Regions from separate parts of the Homo sapiens genome. Here region 1 is reported to be linked to region 2. The links are microRNA targets in miRTarBase. Many come from high-throughput screens and were not tested one by one. Region 2 holds a microRNA gene; the other region holds the end of a gene's coding sequence.

Region 1 (3,417 bases), not on the chromosome of region 2:
TGTTATGCCAACACAAAACATGGCTGAGTTACCCCCCTCCCCGCCCAAATTACTAACACAGCATGATCAGTACCTTAAGTATACTTCAACTAAGCCATTTCAACAAACAAAAAAAAACAAACAAAAAAAAAAGTGAGTGTTTCACTACCCCTGAGACCACTAGTTAACTGTGGTTCATACTTTAAAATGTGAGTACACCCACACAAGAAAGCAAATTAATCAGTTTTAAAAAATCTGATTATCACATTGCAAACTCGCCCAGGAAAAACAAACTGAGTCATTTAAAATGTAAATTTACCATTAACAGGCCAACTGGACCCTAATTCGGTTTATGCATTAAAAGATTTAGGAAATACAAAGACATAGTCAAAACTGATTCTAATACTCAGTTGGGTCCTATACATGGCACTAGTAATGTCAAATTACTGGGTGGAGTGGGGCAAAGAGGGCAAATTCTTAGATTCTTTTAAGATTTCATTGTACATATCTCATGTCCAGTGTCCATACATTCAAAAATGTTGGTTTTCCAGGTACTTTACTGTTCTTTTAAACCTGGAGAAGCCTCTATGGCTTATTCCCTTAGAAGCAACAAATGAAATGATGTATAAAGCATCAAGTCAAAGATACAGAGAACTGGACACATCCACTAATTGTTATGACAATCAAAGAAGTCATCTCCGTAAATACCTAAGGGTTGTCTAAGGCTATAAAGGTCAATTTGAAAGCCAGTTAGGGATCCACCGTGTTTCATAAAAGTGTCTTACACTCATGTTTGGCTTTCAAGAAGTGATATGCCTACTAAAGCTGTTATTTTGAGACTATATGCATCTCAGAAGTAATTTTGAAAATAGAGCCAAAGAGCAGTTTTTCTTACCTTGTGGAGCAGAATGTTAACTAATTTCTCATTCATAATTTGAATCCAAAAAAGTTATGCAGTATGACATCTACCCTGAAGGAGCCGTTTTAAGCAAAACACAAAATGAAAAAATTCACTCATTGGAAAAACTGCGTAGCTGGTTTTTTCCCCAATGAAATGATTACAGAATTAACAAAGCCAGAACATCTTCAGAAGGCATGCATTTCACTTCCAGTTTAGAGAAGAACCTTAAGTCAATAAATCATGTCCAAACTACATATTAAAATGTTTATAAAAAGTAAGTTTTAACATTTATTTCTAGCTTTCCACATGTGTGTGCAGACAAGGAATAAGATTGCACGTAAGTGTAAGCAGTGCAAAAATGTGGAAGTGGAGGAGTCACAGATGTGCTAGAACTTTAAGAAATAAAGCAGTGAACAAAATCAAAATAAACAGGAAAAATGTAAAACTATGGGATCAGAATTAGGAAAGGTGAAGAATGGTAATGCCCTTGTTACTACAGAAGTTAAATCAGTGGCACAGATAGCACTTGTCAAACAAAAAACAATCCAATAGCATTGACTTTTATTCATTCATGTTAAGTCACCTGAAATGATATCTGTTGCATTTAAATGCTCATTAATGTAAATGGCTGAACAAATCCATTTCAATGGATACTCAATATCCCACATAGATAAGTCACTTCAACACAGCCTCATGACAACTCCCACACCAAAACAGTACTTTATTTTGCAAATTTTGACCCATTATTACTCCCATGTTGTTTTTTTTCAGCTGTCAAGTGTACAAGGTGAAGAGAAATTTCAGTTAGACAGGGGCTGCACCTGGAAAATAAATTTCTTAAACTCCATAAACACATTTCAAAACTGCTGGGTCCCAAAAGTCCATCTATGAACTCTAGGGCTGCCAGTATCATGTGCAGCACATTAAAGCTACACTATCCAAATAGCTTATTAATTCTGCATAAATCAGGTCAAGCAATGTGTCAACCTGTAACAGACTGTGCACTTTAACTGAACATGGCAAAATATTCACTCTTTCGAACTTTACATCATCATTTGATGTCAAACAATGAAGCAAATCCCAACAGTATATACAAAAAACAGCTTTGCATTTACAAAAGATTGTTTCCCATACTGATTAATCCAGGCAGCTAACTCATTGGTTTATGCAACTTTATTGAAGAAAAATAAATCAATTACTAGCAGAGCTATTAGTTGATCACTCATCCATTGACAACTTGCATCATTTATTCAGTGCTATATTAAACAGTGTATTGGAAGATAGATTAACTAATAGCTCCAAGCCTCCTAACAATTTAAATGAAAATTACAAAATGTTTGAGACCCTATTTTGGAATACAAAGGGTGTTTGACTTCCAATTTCCATTCTCTGTAGAACAAGAACAGGTCATTCCTTTATTGACATGCATAAAATACATCACATTTTCTGTTCTGCTGATGCTATAAATTCAATACCAATTCTCCAGCCACATCAGTTATGAGCATAAAGCATATCATGTAACCTCAAATCTCTAACAGTGGAAGGCTTAAACAAGAATGGATGCTGCTAGAATAATGCTGTATCCTTTGATGTGACAACTGAGCATCCATCTCCCTCCCCCTCAGATGATTTCTTCAGCATGTTAGAGCAGTGAGGAATGGTTTTAGTCTCATAACCAAGTTAGAGTGAAGACATTGGCCACATAATACACATGCTCCATTTTTTTTTTTAAAAATTCTGAGTCTTGGGCAACTGTTCTCTTGTAACTACTTTACAGTTTCTAAAAGCAGTTATTGTCCAAAGCTGGAAGAACTTAAGTCTTCTCAGATGAGCATGTGAATGAATGGAGGGAGGTAAACAAAAAATAAAATTAAAAAAGATGAGGTCTGATAGGGGAGCAGCCGGATAAGAAAATCAAAAAAGGAACAGTAATTTAAAGTTTATTCCAGCTATAATGCAGGTTATTCTGACTTTAAGGTAGCATCACATGGCATACTTCTGAGTCCATTCCCGAGATATTCTGTTGTACCTGTAAATAAAGATGTTATTTTTAAAAGTTAAAATAAAGAATTCCTAATACTTTAAATGGAAGGGAAAGATTTCCATTTTATCATCTCCAGACTCATCATGAAGTCATCTCTAATGACTATGATTAGAATAAAAGCCAACAAGGGAGAAATAGCACTGGTACTCAAAGCAATGTGGGAAATGAGAGCCTGATGCTCTGAAAGTAGTATTTTAAAAACAACTAAGAAAGCAGCACTGAAAATTGGGAGGCTAACAAAAATCAAAAGACCCTTTCTTTCTCTACCACCGAGCTCATGCTCTAATTTTAACGTGAAGAAATTTTTACAGTTCATTATGGACAAATGTTAAAATAGTATACACATTCTATCTATCCACAGAAATTTCCACCAAGGCCAGAACTAGGCTTTTACTAGAACAATTTTATCTGAATCCTAGAGTTTGGGAAATTACTTGGTCCTGGATATTACAAGAAAAAATGGCTTTGGGACTTAGGTAGAGGCAGAAGGGGA
Region 2 (3,417 bases):
GTATATGCCTCCGATAGTTACATAGGGTGTTTGGGTTTTTGGTTTGGTTTTCACTTTGATTTTTGGTGCCATACAGATTTATATTTTGTTCTTGTGCAGCATATGCACTGAAAAACTTGCTGCTGTTCCACTTGCTGAAATGATAGGGACAATAGAAACCAAAACCAAAACATAGAAGGAAGAGTAGTAGGATCTCTTCACAGATTTTTATTCTTTTGATTCTGTTCCTAAAATTTGGCTTTTCACCTTTGTAACTATGGTAGTTTGGGAAACAAACCTTCTAACAATTATATGAAAAGAAGTTTTAGTTTCCTACTTCTCAGGAATATGACTATTTTGATTAGCTGGGATGTTTGCCAAGCTTAAAAAAAAAGGCTCAAAATCATTCATAGCAACAACTGAAAAACAAAAAAATTGGTTGTTTCCCATGTCTGTACAATGCCATTATCTGACTGGAATTAACAAAGACCATTTCCTTTAATAAGCTATTAATAATATTTACGAATGAATCTGTGTTTTGCAGGTTTCTATTGTCCCTAGTGACTGGAGTGAAGATCAGTGAAATGCTACAATTAATCCACAGCCTTCTGCAATCTTCCTGCAGTGGGAAGAGAGGCCATGAACCATCCCTTGCAGGAGAAACAAACCTTAGAGATTGGTTAAGACTTAAAAACCCACCACTATGACATTACCACTTAATCTTACATAGGCAGGTCAAAATTTTAATATAAATTACTTTTGCCAACACATAGCTTATGCATTCTTTGCTCCTTTTTTTGGAGGATTTTCAAATTGATATCTAAAGATTTACATATGATATATTACTGTTACATGGTCTAATGACTAAGAAAATTTCTCTGGTAACCAAAGCTGATGCCATATATGGTAGTGTTCTTGGCATATACTCTATATGCCTCAGACCACTTCCACATTCTTTCTATTCAGCTAATTATAGCTTAGTAGCCACTGGTGAAGGATTGTGAAGACCCTGTCATTTCTACAGAATAGAAAGGCAAGGCTAGTTACTGCAATTCAGCCAAACAAAAAGAAAAAAGAATAAACCAACCCCTTAAAAAGGAGAGGTACTGCACCTTTGCAAAATTGAACTGGCTCACTGCAGCTGAGCAACAGAACCACCACTGAAGCAAGAAAACAAGTTGGTCTATACAAGAATTGTACATGGTTTGAAAATGAAAAAGTTACAGCAATCAACTAATAGCTGCAACTTAAATTTTCATTGCTGCCTCAGAGTTGAAACTTAAATAGTTTCTGCAAACCTAATGCTAGCTTCTCAGCTCCTTTACTAAAACTATTTAGGAATTTGTTCTCCGCAGCAAAGAAATAGACACTCAAAACACGTAGGTAAATACAGCAGGACATTATTGAAAAACAGCTGCCTTGTAGTACAAAATACAGTACAAGTATACGGATGTCATTAAAACATCAAAAATACTATTGCTCCCATACAATTTAGGAAACATTCTTTGCAACGGAGAAAAATTTAAAAGAAAAGCTTTAAAAAAATCTGTTTAAAAATTCTACTGTGGATGATGAGAGTAGAGAAATAGTCTGAAAAGGGCACCAATGTTTGTGGCTCTTCCACTTTTTAATCTAAGATCAACAATATTCTGCATCATAATCTATTTTTTTAAAAAAGCCTAATTTTATGTACACAATTATTTCCCGCCCTCTCAGCCACAAATACATGAAAACCTTTTTGTATATTACTCATTTCCCAATAAATACAAAAAGATTGTATAGATTGAATAATACCAAAATAAGATAATAAAAAGGATATGCAATAAATTAAAAAGGCAGCTCAAATAAGGGGCAGGCATGCAGTTTAAAAAAAATACTAAGATTGTGGAGGCGGGGTTACTTGCCTCCTGGTTGAGAAGGTGTCACACAAAGAATACCTGAAAACTTTGGAAAGAACGTTAGCTCCCATTCAATTCAAAGTTACCTAGGTCTATGACATTTCTAGGAATACCTTTTGATGGGGTGGGATTAACTTGATTAGTAAAAATCATTTCTACTGAAAATCCATTTAAAATATAGAAGAGGCGATCCTTGAAAACCCCAACTTTTATTCTTGAAAGACAGCTGGATTAACTGGCAAAAGCCAGTTTGTTGAAATTTCAAGATGGTATAAAAATGCTTCCAGGATATAGTCAGCATATTCACGTTCACTTCAGTTCCATTCACAGATGGATTTCAGCTTCCACCGGGTGCACTGCTTGAATCACTCATCCATCATTTGCCAACTCTGATTGTGAGGTACTGATACAATGGATCAAGTTCTTAAAAATTTTAAAAGAATAAATGATGCTGGAATTCTGGACCTGAGGATCTTTAGTATTTGAACAAATCCACAGATTAAACTGAAGGTAAATTAAGACTTCAGTTTTGGTTATTTCCAACTTTTCTGTGAGGATGTATATCCATTAAAGCTCAGGCTTATAGCCACACTGTTACTTTTGTAGGTAATCTTCAAGTTTTATGGTTTAAAATCCAGCCAACCAGTGGCTGTAACAGCCGAATTAGCCATAATTCACTGGCTCACACAGTGGAGATCTGGCTCTCATTCATACCAAAGCATTTCTTGGTAATGACCTCCATATTTAGAGATCAGGGGAACAACTTTAGTGAGCAGCAACCAATCCACTCAAACAGTCTGCCTTGTGCTTTATGCCTGACTTTTTCTTGTGCCTACCTCAGCAACCCCCAATGTAAAACTGCTTTTATCTTTGAAAATTTTTTGTCAACTTTGAAACTATTTTAGTAACGGATTCTACTCCAAGCATTGCTATCTGAATCCACTGGCATCCTGGAAAACAATTCTGCGAAGAAAAGACATTTGCCTTGGTCCAGGTTCCATGCAAAACCATTTTTTTAAAAAAATGGATCCAATTTGGTTCTGTATTCTTAGATGGCTTCTTGAAATCTTATCTTTAACCTGTTCATGATTATCCCAAGTTGCATTTCTTTTCGTGAACCTGAACCCTCAGAACTGGGTAATTGTAAAGGCCTCTCTTCTCAAGGATTCCATGAAGACCTAGATCCAAAATGCTGATTTCAATGGAGGTGAAGGGATAGACACCGCAACAGTGAGGCCTAGAGAGATCTTTTATGCCAGATTACCCAGGTGCAACCTAAATGCAACTGTTATCAATGGTCTGGGTAACTTGGACATGTTTCTTGCCCTGGATGTGCAAGGATCTATTCCCTCCAGGGATTATCCTGATGGGTTTACGAACCTCAGTTGAGAAACAACAGAAGCTGAGACAATTTTACGCAGGTGAGGAGATGCTGTTTTCCTCTTTGCAGGTTGCTGTCAGTTCCTTGGAACTTGACTGCTTTTCTCAAGTTGTCCGTCACTGTTCTCTTACGATTATTTCTCTTAACTGTGTTACGTTT

Evidence for each region. The annotated mature microRNA hsa-miR-4657 reads AAUGUGGAAGUGGUCUGAGGCAU and lies in region 2 at 911-933, opposite strand. An mRNA with a match to its seed (bases 2 to 7 or 8) in the 3' UTR can be bound and repressed. Matches are read on the target gene's strand: a 7mer-m8 pairs with bases 2 to 8, a 7mer-A1 pairs with bases 2 to 7 and ends in A, and an 8mer does both.
Region 1: miRTarBase lists UBE2D3 as a target of hsa-miR-4657. Seed matches in the 3' UTR shown: 7mer-m8 at 1,239-1,245.

The regions. Positions count from the first base shown.
Region 1 is chr4:102,794,552-102,797,968 of GRCh38, forward strand. UBE2D3 (ubiquitin conjugating enzyme E2 D3) reads right to left here. Exons shown (of 8, transcript NM_181891.3): 8 at 1-2,909. The coding sequence ends at 2,864. The region is part of intron 4 of LOC102723704 (a long non-coding RNA gene); the gene reads left to right. Among named protein-coding and RNA genes, the nearest start is that of UBE2D3, 31 kb to the right of the region's middle.
Region 2 is chr7:44,880,868-44,884,284 of GRCh38, forward strand. It overlaps MIR4657 (microRNA 4657), which reads right to left and starts at 933; the gene lies at 881-933. It overlaps PURB (purine rich element binding protein B), which reads right to left. Exons shown (of 1, transcript NM_033224.5): 1 at 1-3,417.